2 separate regions of the Homo sapiens genome follow, and region 2 is linked to region 1. The links come from fine-mapping of genetic effects on gene expression. A gene starts in region 1. The other region holds a variant in brackets. All regions are shown on one strand. Distances are from middle to middle.

What was found. PIP is the estimated chance that this variant, and not a neighbour inherited with it, causes the effect.
Region 2: its variant is fine-mapped to the expression of WDR33 in whole blood (TOPMed, PIP 0.95).

What each region holds. Positions count from the first base shown.
Region 1 is chr2:127,807,652-127,815,995 of GRCh38, forward strand. WDR33 (WD repeat domain 33) reads right to left here and starts at 3,520. Exons shown (of 22, transcript NM_018383.5): 1 at 3,361-3,520. It overlaps LOC124907885 (a long non-coding RNA gene), which reads left to right and starts at 3,600. Exons shown (of 2, transcript XR_007087230.1): 1 at 3,600-4,492; 2 at 4,861-6,081. RefSeq lists enhancers at 1,595-2,502, 2,585-3,525, 2,932-3,011, 3,092-3,171, 3,192-3,481 and 1 more.
Region 2 is chr2:127,760,073-127,768,416 of GRCh38, forward strand. It overlaps WDR33 (WD repeat domain 33), which reads right to left. Exons shown (of 22, transcript NM_018383.5): 4 at 8,117-8,221; 5 at 5,102-5,197; 6 at 4,756-4,907; 7 at 2,990-3,087. Among named protein-coding and RNA genes, the nearest start is that of WDR33, 47 kb to the right of the region's middle. The variant A/T (reference allele first, on the strand shown) is at 4,557.

The DNA of each region.
Region 1 (8,344 bases):
GGAGAATACAATCTAGGCAAAGAGTTAATAAGCAACAGCCAAAGATCAGAAATAAACCAAGTCATGAGGGGAATTTTTGTAGAAAATTCATTCTTCAATTTGTATAATGCCTAGGTTTTAGGAATACAAAAATATAAGGTACTATAGCACGTCTTCAACGTGCTCACAAAGAGCTGGCAGCAGGGACTCATGACTCCCAAGACTTTGAAAGGCTGAAGTGGGAGGATCGCTTGAGCCTAGGAATTAGAGGCTACAGTGAGCCATGATCATGCCACTGTATTCCAGCCTGGGTGACAAAGTGAGACCCTGTCTCAGAAAACAAACAAACAAACTAAAAACCAAAGTATTCACAAGTAGTGGAGAAGGTATAGTCAAAATACATTAAAGATATATACAAAATGCTTTAATAGCAGAGAAAGGAGTGATTAACTTATCAGAGGAATGAGATTGTCAGTAAATTTCAACAAAGATATTTGAGTTAATGTTTAAAACTGAAAATGATGTCACCAATTAAATTCATCACAGAAAGAAAAAAAATGTTAACATTTAAAGAATGCCTACTATATATGAGGCACTTTTTACCTTTAGGTTTTATAGTTAACATTCTTATATACAAAGAAACTGAAGCTTAGAGAGTTTAATTAACTGACCCAATATAAAAAAGGTAGTTAATGGTGAGCCTGGCATTCAAACCTAGGTCCATTTGCTGCTGAAACCCATACATGCCCTTTCCAATACTACCTAGCTCTGGGAATTTATAAGCACACAAATCATGAGTACAAGATACAATACAACTTTAGAAAGTCAGTCACTACCAGAAAATTAGTAAAATGTTTAAGGGCCAGACAGATGAGAGTAGCACTGCTCAGATTTTCCAATACACTGAAGAGCTTCAGTCTCTAGGACTAATGTAAATGGTTTGAAATGGGGAGATAAATGTTACCAAAGAAAAATCATTTTCAGCAGAGCGCGGTGGCTCATGCCTGTAATCCCAGCACTTTGGGAGGCCCAGACAGGTGGATCATTTGAGGTCAGGAGTTTGAGACCAGCCTGGCCAACATGGTGAAACCCCGCCTCTACTAAAAAATACAAAAATTGGCCAGGTGCGGTGGCTCACGCCTGTAATCCCAGCACTTTGGGAGGCCGAGATGGGCGGATCACGAGGTCAGGAGATCGAGACCATCCTAGCTAACACGGTGAAATCCCGTCTCTACTAAAAATACAAAAAATTAGCCGGACGCGGTGGCGGGCGCCTATAGTCCCAGCTACTCGGGAGGCTCAGGCAGGAGAATGGCGTGAACCCGGGAGGCGGAGCTTGCAGCGAGCCAAAGATCGCGCCACTGCACTCCAGCCTGGGCGACAGAGCGAAACTCTTGTCTCAAAAAAAAAAAAAAAAAAAAAAGAATTCCAGAAACACATTTATAAGTGAAAATTTTTCACTAATATCTTTGTCGTAATCATAAAGCTTTTCTGTAACCTTACTATCCTATTCTGAAATATGAAGCAGTTCAAACTTCAGCCATAATCAAATAATATTCCACCGCAAAGTAATGGGAAAAGTATATGAACTTATTACTTAGCAAAGAGAGCTCTGAATAAATACCTTAAGTGCTTAGTAAAAATATAATTAAAGCCTTACGTCAATATAAAACCGTGATGGCAAAATCTGTTTAGTATTTTTCACCAACCAAAGAAAATTATCCAAGTTAAGCCATCAGCTTCACAGATAAACATTTATTTTTGTCTAAACCATTGTAATATATGTAAGCCAAATTCCTTTTTTTTTTTTTTTTTTTTTTTTTGAGACGGAGTCTCGCTCTGTTGCCCAGGCTAGAGTGCAATGGCGCGATCTTGGCTCACTGCAACCTCTGCCTCCGGGGTTCAAGTGATTCTCTTGCCTCAGCCTCCCGAGTAGCTGGGATTACAGGCGCCCACCACCACACCCAGCTAATTTTTGTATTTTTAGTAGAGACGGGGTTCCGCCATGTTGGTCAGGCTGGTCTCGAACTCCTGACCTCAGGTGATCCGCCCACCCTGGCGTCCCAAAGTGCTGGGATTACAGGCGTGAGCCACCGCGCCCGGCCATAAGCCAACTTTCTACCAAAATTCTTCCTAGGAGTACAGGAAAGACAAGTTAAAATTTCTCCCCAAGTTTCAAGAAGATAGTCTAAATATGGAACTTCAAGTCTCAGCAAAAACTCAAATCTATACAATATTTTATCTTCTCCCGGTCAAGGAGACAAAAAAAGCAAAAGTATCTTACAGTAATAAAAAATGGGTAAAATGCAATTAAGGCGAGGAAATGAAAAATGCCACAAGAGGTACAACTAGCATAACTGTCACTAAAAGGTTTGAATTAAGTAGGTTTACCACTGCACCATATTCACAGGCTATATATACATACACACACACATATATACACATATATATGTATATATAGCATGCATTAGCTCTCCAGAGTGTACTAAAAAAGTAAAGTCTACGCTCCCCAGAGTTGTTCCTTTCAGTGCAGGCTTTTTGTTCATATTCTAATGTCTTCCAAAGTTCCTGAACAGTCAACTTAAGATCATGTGTGTAGAAACTACTTTAAAACATTCTTGACAGGCTTTCTACAAGTAGCCCGTATTTTTCTGATTTGATTTAAATAGATCCAATTACGGAATTCCCTACCGACCTGCCGCCGCCGCCTCCTCCTTACTCCGGAAGGGGCCACTAATCCCAAGGGTTACAACCAAGTACAAACATTCATTGTCATTTCTTTTAAGAAGGCATGCTAAGATCCTCACTACTTAGTTGCCAGAAGACAACTTAAAATCAGAAACAGGGATCTAGCACAAACCAAATAGAAATACAACTATTCCAAAAAAGCAGGGCTTTGCCTGTCAAGCTGTAGCCTCATCCTTATAATAAGCACCGATTTCAAGCCACGATAACATCACGGCTAAGTCTTCAGCTGTTTTGCAGATTTCACGTTAACTTCCCTTGACCCTTTCAACCAACTACTTCAACTCGGCCCACTTCTTTCCACTCCCGCCCCAAACCTCAGTTAAAATGCATTTCCCTCCAAACTTCACGTCTTAACTGTGGCCTGACTTACGTCTTCTCGTCGCCACCGCTCCCAGTCAGGGCCTTAGTTCTAACCATGGCCGCTTTTCCCGGTTGGCCTCCAGCCTCCAGCCCCCTCCCATAAGTCTCGAACCTGCCTCGAACAGCCGCCCCGAGGTCGATTCTCCCAGTTCCTCCAACCTGTGCCCAGGCGCCCGTCCAGGCCCCCAAAGCACGCAACGGCCGAGCCCGAAAATGGCGGAGAGTGCCGCTGCCTGCTGCAGGCGAGCAGTCCCGTGTCGCCGCCGCACTCACCGTCTGGCTTTGAGCAGAGCTCCTAAATGGCCAGCGAAGCGTTCGCCTTCAGAGCCAGAAATGTCTCTCTTGTTTGGTCTCCCCACCCCGATCCTCTCAATCCCGCTCCTCCAAAGGAGCAGCCGCCATCTTCCCCTATGGGCCACCGAACGCACGCTCTGGGGTCATCACGCACTGGCGGGACGGCGCTACGTCACGCGCGCCTGGACCGCGGGCCTCTGTGAGGTTCGATCTGCGCATGTGCCTAGGTGAGGTGCCGAGCCGCGAGACCCTGCAGAGCGCTTCCTTTGTTCCGGAGCGAGTAGGACGCGCTACCTCCTGGAGGAAAGAAGCGACTGCGTTTCGCAGTGCTGACTTTTTTTTACAGTGTGAGCTAACGTGTATGCTCTGAAAAACACCCCGTTTTCCAGTATGTGAATGAGTATATTTGTACGGGGCCAGTACGGCAGACATAGCGGGTCGTTGGACCGAGCCCACCGAGAGTGGATCTGTGGGAAGCCACTGTGGCACCTTGCTGAGTCTGTTCACCCGTGCAGCTAGCTGGTGGCAGCCCTGGCAGATCCCGGCACACAGTCAGGCTCCACGCCTTACCCGAGCCAGTTGTGCCTCTAGATTACGCCTCGCTTAAAGTCCAGCGACCAAGATAGAAAAACAGCCCCACGATGCAACCATTTTGGAAAACCGCTGCAGTTTCTGCCAAAGCTAAATGTACGCTTACCTTGTGACCCCAGAAATTTCACTTCAAGAGGAATGAGTGCATACGTCCACCAAAGGCATGTGCAAGAATGTCCATAGCACGTTTATTCGTAGTAGTAAAAAACTGGTAACCTAAATGTCCATCAGCAGTTGAGTGGCTAAATTGTGGTGTATCATACAGTGGATTTCTACAGAGAAATAGGAAGTTACGGATAAACGCAACAGCCTGAACGAATAGCAGCTACTGTTAACTTAGGCACAAAGAAGAGGACGCTGTATGATTCCATTTTGATGAGGTTCAAAATATAACTGCACAGCAAGTTGTTCTCCAGTATGAATCAGGAATCGTACCAGCCTGGGGAACATGGCGAGATCCCATCTTTGCGCGTCGGGGTGCGTTCCTGTGACCGCCTTCCTGTGATCGTTCCTGTGATGGGTACTTGGGAGACTGGGGTGGGAGGATCACTTGAGCCCAGGAGTTGGAGGGCGCAGTGAGCCAAGATCGTGCCAGTGCACTTAAGTCTTGGAAGCAGAGTAAGACCCTGTCTCAAAGAAGTCTTACTTTTGACTCCATAATCCCCTTCCAAAAATCTATTCTAAGGATAGCCTCAGAGATGTGAGTAAGATTTGTGTACTAATCTTTGAGGTATTAATGATAGCAAAAAAAAAAGGAAACAGTAGCAGACAGTGATTAAATAATGGCACATCCATACGTAGACTATCATGCAGACATTACACAGTATCTAAAGTTTTTATGATAACATCAGAAATGTTTATAAACTTCTATATTTTTTCTTTTTTTAGAGACAAGGTCTCTCACCCAGGGTGATCATAACTCACTGCAGCCTCAACCTCCCGGGCTCAAGTGATCCTCTCACCTCAGCCTCCCTAGTAGCTCAGACTAATGACCTGTACCAGGACACCCATACCCAGCTAATTTTAGTAGAGACTGTCAGGCCTCAGAGCCCAAGCTAAGCCATCATATCCCCAGTGACTTGCACGTATACATCCAGATGGCCTGAAGCAACTGAAGATCCACAAAAGTGAAAATAGCCTTAACTGATGACATTCCACCATTGTAATTTGTTTCTGCCCCACCCTAACTGATCAATGTACTTTGTAATTTCCCCGACCCTTAAGAAGGTTCTTTATAATTCTCCCACCCTTGAGAATGTACTTTGTGAGATCCACCCCCTGCCCACAAAACATTGCTCCAAACTCCAATGCCTATCCCAAAACCTGTAAGAACTAATGATAATCCCACCACCCTTTGCTGACTCTCTTTTCGGACTCAGCCCACCTGCACCCAGGTGAAATAAACAGCCTTGTTGCTCACACAAAGCCTGTTTGGTGGTCTCTTCACACGGACACGTGAGACAGAGACAAGATCTGATTATGTTGCCCAGGGCGGTCTCAAACTCCTGGGTTCAAGCAATCCTCCTGCCTCAGCCTCCCAAAGTGCTGGGATTACAGGCCATGCGCCACCACGCCCAGCCCCTATAATCTTATTTTGATATGTGTCTAGAAATATGTAAGGAGGCCAGACAATTCCAGTTCTGTGTGATGAGCTTAGGTTAGGATGGAAGGAAGCCATGGACACCCTGAGTGCAAGGCAGGAAAGCCAGGATAGAAGGCAGGATTCTCAAGGGCTGAAGGTAGGGAATGGGGTCAGGAAGGTAACGCTAAGAAGTCCGCTCATCAATTGGGTTTAGAAGTTAGGCAGAAAAGACAAGCAAGTGGTCAGTTCCTAGAAATTATACTGGGAGTGGTAGAGGAGGCATTCAGGCAGTGTCCTGATCCCTGAAAATCTTTAAAATGTACTGAATTGGAGGAGCAGTCTAATCAAGGGCAAAAATCCTTCACACCTGTAACCTCACAGGCCCCTTCCTGGAAAATTGTTTTTTAAATTGACCAGGAGACAAATGAATCTGTTAAGTATACTGCAAGGATGCAGTCAGCCATATTCTATATTTTATAAAATTTTACATGTGATACATTTTCTTCCAATAAAAATTTAAAAACTGAGGAAAGAAACTGTTAGAGATTATCTGTTACAGGTTAGAGACTTAAGAGGCATATCAACCAAATGGAATGTGTACTCCCTATTTGGGTCCCAATTGAACAAACTGGGGGGAAAAGACATTTTAAAGAGTTTTTAAATTTGTTATATGTAACAACTATATTTTCATTATTTATTTATTTATTTTGAGACGGAGTCTTGCTCTGTCGCCCAGGCTGGAGTGCAGTGGCGCGATCTCAGCTCACTGCAACCTCCGCCTCCCAGGTTCAAGTAATTCTTCTGCCTCAGCCTCCTGAGTAGTTGGAATTACAGGCTTGCACCATCATACCCGGCTAATTTTTGTATTTTTAGTAGAGACGGGGTTTCACTATCTTGGCCAGGCTGGTCTTGAATTCCTTACCTTGTGATGCACCTGCCTCGGCCTCCCAAAGTGCTGGGATTACAGGCGTGAGCCACTGCGCCCGGCCTTTTCATTAATTTTTTAAAATCTTTACCTGTTGGCTGGGCACCGTGGCTCACACCTGTAATCCCAGTACTTTGGGAGGCTGAGGTGGGTGGATCACATGAGGTCAGGATTTCAAGACCAACCTGGTCAACGTGGTGAAATCCCATCTCTACTAAAAATACAAAAAAAAAAAAAAAAAATAGCTGGGCATGGTGGTGGGCACCTGTAATCCCAGCTACTCAGGAGGCTGAGGCAGCAGAATCGCTTGAACCCCGGAGGCGGAAGTTGCAGTGAGCCAAGATTGTGTCACTTCATTCCAGCCTGGGCAACAAAGCAAGACTCCATCTCAAAAATAAATAAGTAAAATCTTTACCTGTTGTGTCCTGAAGTATGTATGAGTTAAATGATATGATGTCTGGAATTGGCTTTAAGTGATTCCAGCCAAGCACATCAGCAGAAATGGTTGAGTAAGAACATCTGAAAATCTTCTCCTTCATAAAAGCCACAAAACACTGGCAAAATTTTGTCAAAATCAATTTTTTCAGTGTTCAGAGTGCTGGAAATTAACCAAGGTCTTTCAACAAGATAAGGATTGTTTATTCAAGAAAAAAAATGGCTAAATCTCCACTAAGTTACAAGGGAGGAGAGAGGGACATAGACACAAGATTGGCTAGGTGATAGGTAAATGACAGTTCACTATCCTGATTTATTTATTTACTTCTTTTTTTAGGGACATAGCGTCTCCCTATGTTGCCCAGGCTGGCCTTGAACTCCTGGCCTCAAGTGATCCTCCCATTTGAGCCTTCCAAATAGCTGGGACTATAGGGGTGCACCACCACACCTGGTTAATTTTCTCAATTTTTTATAGAGATGAGATCTCACTATGTTGCCTATGCTGATCTTGAACTCCTATCCTTAACTGATCCTCCCACTTCAGCCTCTCAAAACACTAGTATTACTGGCATTAGCCATAGCACCCAGCCACTATTGTCTTTACACATACATGAAAATATTGTATACAAGTACATTTTTCCTACACAGATAGGATACTATCCAAATTGTACTCTTTTGGCAATATATCTTGGCACCTTTCCTTCTCAGTTCACGTGTAGACATATCTTCGTTCTTTGTAACAGCTTCTCAGGCCTGAAGCGGTGGCTCATGCCTGTAATCCCAGAACTTTGGGAGGCCTAGGTGGGAGGATCACTTGAGCTCAGGAAATCAAAACCAGCTAATACAAATAATGCTGCAATCACCATCCCTGTGCATTCTTTATATGTAAATACAGCTGAGTATGCCACCTCCCACTGGATTAGCATAGACTATTTCTACGCATCCTGTTCTCATCATCTCTGCATAATACAGCTTTCTCCCCCCTTTCTAGAGGCAGAGAAAGCAAGCCTGCTAACAAAAAAAATCAGAAACAAACTACGCCAGGTGTGGTGGCTCATGCCTGTAATCCTAGCACTTTGGGAGGCCGAAGCGGGCGGATCAACTAAGATCAGGAGTTCGAGACCAGCCTGGCCAGCATATGGTGAAACCCCATCTCTACTAAAAAATACAAAAATTAGCTGGGCATGGTGGTGCATGCCTGTAGTCCCAGTTACTTGGGAAGCTGAGGCAGAAGAATCACTTGAACCCGGGAGGCAGAGGTTGCAGTGAGCCGAGATCGTACCACTGCACTCCAGCCTGAGCCACACAGCAAAACTCTGTCCCTAAAAAAAAAATAAAAGGAGGCCAGGCGCAGTGGCTCACACCTGTAATCCCAGCACTTTGGGAGGCCAAGGCGGGCAGATCACGAGGTCAGGAGATCAAGACCATCC
Region 2 (8,344 bases), 48 kb before region 1:
GCAGGTTTCTGATATAAAGAAAGAATTTCCTGAAAATTAGAGCTATTTAAGGAATTCATGTGAAGTAAGGAATATTACATCACTGAGAATGTCTGTGAGTAGAAGGCTAGTTTTTAGGAATGTTGTAGAAAAGTATTTGATAAGAGTTTGACTGTATGATCACAAACTCCCCTTAAATAGAATTATTTTGGATTTTCTGAATACTTAACTCCAAAAGTAATGACTTGATACACAACACTAACAATGCAAAGGAGTATGCTTATCTACCTGATGCCATAGAGTCTATGCGTGTTACATGAACATCATCCTTAATAAAGGGCAACTGATATTTTAGAGGTTAGACTATCCTGTCCCTATTTGTTTGACTTTGTGATCCAGTTTTCTCTGAGTAGAGCTAAGTAAGTTCACTTCACATTTTATTTAAAGAACTCTCATCATCCCTTGAAACCACTACCAATCCACCAACCCTCTGACCCCACAACTCACTAAGGGGAGGATGGGAAGCTCTTAGATGCATAAAATTTGGAAAAGTGAGAAATGACAGAAAACAGACAACTGGAATCTAATAACTCTTCTCCTACAGCAGACCTGCTATCAGAATTACTGCTTGGGTGGTATAATCAACTTAATTCAATATATTCATGTCTCATATACTGAAGTGTCTTGGGGTACTAAAAATATTGTTACTGTAAAGTAAGTAGAATTTTTTTAAAAAGAATCAAAAGATATTAAAAAGCTAGAATGTAAACCCTAAAAGTACCTGAAGGCTCATTATACCTTTGTACATGTTTGAAATTTCCATAGTAAAAACCTAAAATAAAGAGACCTCATACAAAAATCTCAACTCTCATTTATGATTCAGCATCTACTTAACTTCATCTAAATTTACCTGGACTTATCTGAAAATACTTAACTGCTAGTTAATATCCCCTGCACACTCTAAATTTCAAAGGAAAGTTCTTAATGAAACACATTCATTACCAAAATTGAATAATGCTTCACTGGATCATGGGACTCAAAAACGTTATCACATAGATTTCCTTCTTTTTAAAATCCAAGCAGCAAAGTGGTTTTAGATCAGACTTCAGTTAATACAGTCCACTGTAAAATTAGTTGTTTTAATACTCTAGAATTACTTTTTTTTTTGAGACAGAGTCTCACTCTGTTGCCCAGGCTGAAGTGCAGTGGTGCAAACTCCGCTCACTGCAAGCTCCGCCACCTGGATTCACACCAGTCTCCTGCCTCAGCCTCCCGAGTAGCTGGGACTACAGGCGCCCACCACGACACCCAGCTAATTTTTTGTATTTTCAGTAGAGACAGAGTTTCATGGTGTTAGCCAGGATGGTCTTGATCTCCTGACCTCGTGATCCGCCCACCTCGGCCTCCCAAAGTGCTGGGATTACAGGCGTGAGCCACCGCGCCCAGCTACTCTAGAATTACTTTTAATAAATAAAATTATTTCATTTTCTCTAAGTTTCCAGGATTTTAAAAACTTAGAAAATGTTTCACTTATTTCTGTTTAACAGCCAAGACTAATAGTGAGGAAAGATTCAACATAAGTGTGGCATTAGGCTGGGAGTCAAATGATAAGATTCTAGTCCTGGCTCTGAACCTATTTTGCTTTGAACATGTCACTTCCACCCTTGGCATCATGGAGCTCATCCATAAAATAACTCAGACATGATCATCTCAAAGTCTCTGTCTCGTTCTGAAGTTATACAATATTATGACCTTTATAGTGAGTAAACTCCCTCAATGTGACAGGTTCCCTATTCTTACAAAAGCTACAGTCATACAGTACTGTGGATAAACCCAAACAAAATGTGCCAAGTCAGGAGTGTTGAAGCAAATGTGATGGAAGATACTGGCTTGAAATATGGGCTGAAATACACATTAAAGTATCTCAAGAGTCTTTCCTGTCTACAAAACATCAACATTATATGCTACAGCTAAAGCTCTGAAAAACTGTGAGAAACTTAACGATTCAACCAAGACAACGATCTCTGCTGACTCTTGAACATAAGGGAAAAGCTCTGAATAATAATTTGACACCCAACACCCGTAGCACCCATCCTCCCACCCTGTATTTATGTGTCAGAGAAAGATGGTACTTTTGTGGCATCCTGGAATCAAGGGTACGGAGTAGAAGGTACTGTTTGTTAAACAGTACATTCAAAAGGTTCAAATTAAGCACTGGAGAAAACTACCTTCCTACTTAATAAACTAACAGGATCCAGTTAGAAGTGTCTTTGTTGTGATGTTTGTATTGCATATATACAACAAATTCCTTAACTCTACCACCACTGAATTCACGTAACTCACATTGATGTACTGTTAATATTTCAACAGTCCCACTTTATAAAGTCCAATATTCTAATGCATAATCTAAAATAATCGAAGTGAGAATATGGACTTCAGTTACGGAATGAAGTAATTTCATAGAGGTTTATTAATTATAAAATCAACAAAAGTAAACAAGCAGCAATGCCACCCGAACTTAGTAACAAGCCGGCCATGTAGTACAAATGTGGTGTACTGAAAAACCAACTGCTTTCAAAAATAGTAACACTAAGAAGTGTAGCTTTGATACCTCTATCTTGTCGGTTAATTCATATTGTAAAAGGACTGCCAGGAGAATGACGGCTATCTAAATCAAACCACAGTGTCAATATGTTGGGAACAAGTACCCTGGCTACAAGGAAGGAAAAGGAATACAGCCCTAAAAGATGCATACAGATAAGCAAGTAAGGGGGAGGCACTCTTGTATTTAATTTACAGCTGAAAAATTCAAAGATAACACTGGTAGTAAAAACCTACAAAATGACTGTGAGTCAGAGAAAGTGCTGGGTTTTTTTGAAGAGCCTGAGACGGTGTGTATATGTAAAAAAAATTGAATGGAGGTGTAAGCCAGTATTGTGGTTTTGTGATGATTTAACCACAAATGTCTTCCCTATTTAAATATTCCAATCAGTACTGTTAGTACACGTACCTCGGAGAATTCTTTCCTCATGGCAACGAAGAAAGTCCCAGATTCTAACAGTGCCGTCATCAGAGCATGTAGCAAATTTATTATCCGTGGGTGAGAAACTGTTACATGAAGACACACAGCAGGGGAAAGAAGTCAGCATTTAACAGATAATCTGTGCTTCTCAGACAGGGAAAAATAAAAACACTGTGCTGCATTATAAACAGGAGAGGGAAGAATCCAGTGAAGAAGCCCTTAAAGTGAATGTCGTCAGCTAACATAGGCATCTCATCAAAAGAAGACTTCAACAGAGCAGTTGTTTGAGTTTTCAATCATCAGTATTCTGAGAACTTCAAGTGTGTATTATTAGTGCTAATGCTATCCATGTTCCTTCTCTATTTTCTATGATACGAGGAAATCACATGAAGCTGCCTTAAGTGGTGAAAATAAATGGATTCTATTTTTGCAGTATTCCTGCAGTCTTTTAAATCACACACGAATACTGCTCCCAAAATTATCATCAGCTTCTGCCTCAGACACTTCATGAAATAAGCTGAAACAATGTGGGCTGTCTATTAAAAGACTGATTGCTAAACATCCCTACATACAATGTTTCTCATCCATTTCAAAGGTCTGTAGAAAAGTTTCACATCTTCCTGGCAAGCTATTCCATGAATGTTGCACCTTTGAGGAAAACTTTAAAATAAGGACATTCAGACTTGTGTGTAAAGCCAAAGAATCTGCTGCAAGAAGGAGTCAGTTTTTCCCAGCAGTGAAAGATCATCAAGTTTCTCAACTAACTCTAAAAACTCCCTTGAACTTTGGAATCCTATGAAGGACCAGCTGTGTAAACTCAATGTATGGGCATGACACTAAGGCAAAATCTACAAAGCAGAAGCATGTTCATCCAACAATTTCTGTTAAGATTCTGAAAGTATGAACAAATGACTACAGTGGATGATGTTTCCATAAAGATGTCAACCTCCTCCCACACATGGGTGGCACAACCTTAAAGAATGCTGCTTAGCTTTATTCTGAGGCTGCAGCAATTCTTCAGGCTTGTATTTGGAACTTTTTCCCCCAGTTTTACTATACATACCTCACTGATGTGTAAAAATATACAACTCACTGAAAATATTTTAAACTCCACTTATTGTATACATTTGCATAAGTGATGTTATCAACAGTGAATCAGAAGAAAAGTCCTAGAGTCTTCTTGACAATGATCTGCTTACAGCTGCAAAGCTTGAAGAACCCATTCATTACTCCGTTAATGTTTGCCACATCCAGTTATCTGTGAGGGTTTTAGTCCTATACTTTCCTTTGGAAGTCGTGGCATAACCAAGCCAACCAGGTCTTCACTTAAGCCTTTTTCCACTTTGTGTGAATTCTGAAGTTGTTTTCTGTAGGCTTTAGATTTTATTCAGTTGCATAATTAAAGACTGAATTCTTTATTTGGAATGAAATATTCTTGTCTTACACAGTAGATAATAAAAAGGAATAACGTATACACATTATTAATCATAAATGAAAAGAGAAAACCAGTGCAAAATGCGGCAGACAGTACATCTCTAACATATTGCAAAGGCTG[A/T]TACCGGGACAACACTACTTCAGAAAGGTGCCAGCAAAATGGTGAATGTGTGAAAACAAAGAAAAATATTGTGTTTATAGGGTGCAGAAAGTTTCCCAGAAACTGACAGAGCCCATGCATCTCTGCACCCAGAATACACTTAGAGAATAATTTAACCATGACAATAGGGACTACAGAAAATGGTATATTGTGTATAAACCTGGCCTCTCTAATCGCCTCCTTATGTGCCTGGAACATCTTGACGTTGTTCATGTTCGACTGCCAATATTTCACATATCCTCCGTGGTCTGCTGTCAACATCCACATGTCATTATGTGACCACGTCATGGCCCTCACTGGGCTGTCGTGAGCCTGTGAAAGCAGAAAACATTAATTAGTAAGGTGCTGCTTCAAAGAATATATGACTAAAGGCTTACAAGAGCATATAACTGACTCGAGGTAATAATTCGTCCCAATTCTAAGTTTAACAATGCCAATGAAATGACTATATCTCAAGTTCTTTACAGTACCACAGGATGATGATACCATCTGGTGATTATCATTACCTGTAATATTGTTTCAAAATTGAAAGTGAGTCCATTCCACAGGGTAAACTCCCCACTAGAAGCTCCAGTGACCAAGCGTCTTCCTTCTGGAGTCCACTAAGGGAGAAAAAAAGACAGGTTATACATCCTCCAACTTCACTAATTTTGAAAAACATATTAAAGGTATTTGTAAAACATGCAATAACTGACATTAAATAATGATACTGACTTTCACTTAAATGTAGCTCAGCTTTATCAGAAGTACTTTGTCAGAAAACAACTTAACACTGTGCAAGGAAAGCTCTAGTCCTTTGGTTTATTAGCTAAATTAAAGACAGTAAGTACATTATGAGTATACGCACCTACTCACTAAATTACACACACGTATGCATGCTAAAGACCATTTCAAAACAGAATATGCAAAGACCTCATTTCCCTAGGCTATACGATAGACTAACATAAATAAGGTGATCAGTCACCAGAACAACTCAAAGACTGAATAAAGGATATGGTGCTTACAAGTAAGAGAGGACAAATTCAGAAAGAAAAGTTACCAGTGTTTAATTAAAAAAACAAGATAATAATAAGTACCGATTTAAGGACACTGAGGCTTTCAAACTCTTCCTGCAGCTAAACATATTTAAAAAAAAAAAAAAAAGTAAGCTCTCCTCCATTCAAAGTACCAAGCAGTGATAACTCTTACGCTGATCTACTCTCAAAAAAAACCATAATAGTGCCATGACTAATTAACACTACACCAAAAGTTTTAATTCTAATGGATACACATAGATGTATATATTTTCAGGGAATGACTATGCCAATAACTTTTTTTGCACTTTTAAGTGCACCTTTTCTCTTTTTAAATTAAACCTAAAGTCCTTTATTACTTTTTGCACTTAAGGCCCTTTAAATATTTTTACATCAGTATTTTGATGTCACAATTTGCATACTAAAGGAAATCTGTGGCATATGTGCTGGTTAATTTGAAACATTCAAATTTTTTGTTTTTACTTTTTATTTTCAAGTTTCTATGATGGATCACACACTCATTTTCCTTAAAAGATGTAAATATACAAAATGGCAATACAACAATCCTATTTTCCAAAAACTCCGACAAAGTTGAAAAATACAAATACATATGTGCTTATAGAAACAGTAAGGATATATAAAATGAAGGTTATTTCTTAAATTACACAAATATATATGACAATTTGGCTTTTCATTGCTTACCTGTAAGTCACAGTTTTGATTATCAGATTAAAAGCCTCCCCTCTTTCTAGTTTCTGTTATCTGGTATGGATCCTAACCCGGTCAATACTACAGACAACCAAACTGTAGACACAGAGCCCACAGTCTTTATACCTTAATACCTTTTGATTTTGACTGTGCCTCTACTATGTGCAAATTCTTCCTCAAACCTTATAGCGTAATCCCCAAATGAGAACATTTACCCACCTTATAAGATATGGATGCTCGGATTTTATTCTTTTCAAAAAGGTTTTCCATGCTATGCTAAGAGGATATTAAAATTAGCTGCACATCATACCCCTTTAACCAAATTCCCTGATTAAAAAAAAAATTAGACTACACACTGGTTGCTTCTACTCACATAACAATGTTTCTTTTTTTTTTTTGAAACAGAGTTTCGATCTTGTCGCCCAGGCTAGAGTGCAGTGGCACAATCTAGGCTCACTGCAACCTCCACCTCCCAGGTTCAAGTGATTCCCCTGTCTCAGCCTCCTCTCTCAGGCACGTGCCACCACACCCGGCTAATTTTTGTATTTTTAGTAAACACGAGGTTTCATCATATTGGTCAGGCTGGTCTCAAACTCCCGACCGCAGGTGATCCACCCACTTCAGCCTCTCAAAGTGCTGGGATTACAGGTGTGAGTGATGTGTCTACTGCCTAAGGCCTCTCAGGCAAATAAGAGGCCTAAGACTAAATGCAGCTATTTCTATGGAGTTCAGACTGACATCTCTCTCCCAGGACTTCTTGGTTCTCCCTGCTCTCTATCATACTCCTCTGATATCAGAAGATCTGCTTATTTTCCTCATCTGCCACTAATGTTTGACACAATCGTCTTTTCTCGGTCTCATTTTTTTTCAACTGTTATTTGCTCAACTTAAGACTGTTAACCAACAAGTGCATTAGCTAGGAAATGGAATAATCGAAACACAAAGAAGAAAATGATTACATTATCATCTATGAAAATCGGGGTTATAACTAAAAATTATATTTTTTAAATTTAGTTTCAGTTTTAAAATTAGTTTCAGTTTAAGGCCGGGCACGGTGGCTCATGCCTGTAATCCCAGCACTTTGGGAGGCTGAGGTGGGCAGATCACGAGGTCAAGAGATTGAGACTATCCTGGCTAACACGGTGAAACCCCGTCTCTACTAAAAATACAAAAAAAAGTAGCCGGGCATGGTGGCAGGCGCCTGTAGTCCCAGCTACTAGGGAGGCTGAGGCAGGAGAATGGCGTGAACCCGGGGGGCGGAGCTTGCAGTGAGCCGAGATCACGCCACTGCACTCCAGCCTGGGTGACCGAGTGAGACTCTGTCTAAAAAAAATAAAAAAATAAAATAAAATTTCAGTTTAAATGTATTAAGTGCCTACTAGGTACCTTCATAGAGCTAAAAATTACGGTACACCACAGTTCTTCAGCTCTCAGATGTTTTCCTGTCTGTTAACTCCTAAGTATTTTTCATTTACCTTGGGATGCTGCTTTCTAAATAGTTAATAAAAGCATTCCTACTCAAACGCAACTCTGAGACCTGCTACAACATGTATCCATCTATTCAGAGAGAATTCTACAGAAATTGCCACATGAAGAAAAACAATCCAAAAGTGGTATCTCACTCAATGGTGATAAAGTAGATAAACAACTGGATATTCCAAAATAAAATTACTAGCAATAAACCAATTATAAGCCCAGATATACTTTTAAAATAATGTTTAATTTTCTTTGCCCTGTCAAATACATTTGCTATATAACGCAGGATTAATTTTCCCCCAAAATATCCAACAGATTACTTACCCTAACAACAAATACAGGACACTTTACTTTATTTGTTGATGTCCGAACAAATTTTGTTGTTACTGCATTCATAGGATTATTCAACATTCCTATAGGTGGGACCAGCTACAAAAAAGGAAAATTGGGTTCTTAGAGCTCCTGATTACATACAAGGCAGAAACCAGAAACACGGCAAGGTAATTATTTCAACATTTAAAGACAAATTTGGGACCATATAGAACTTTCCCA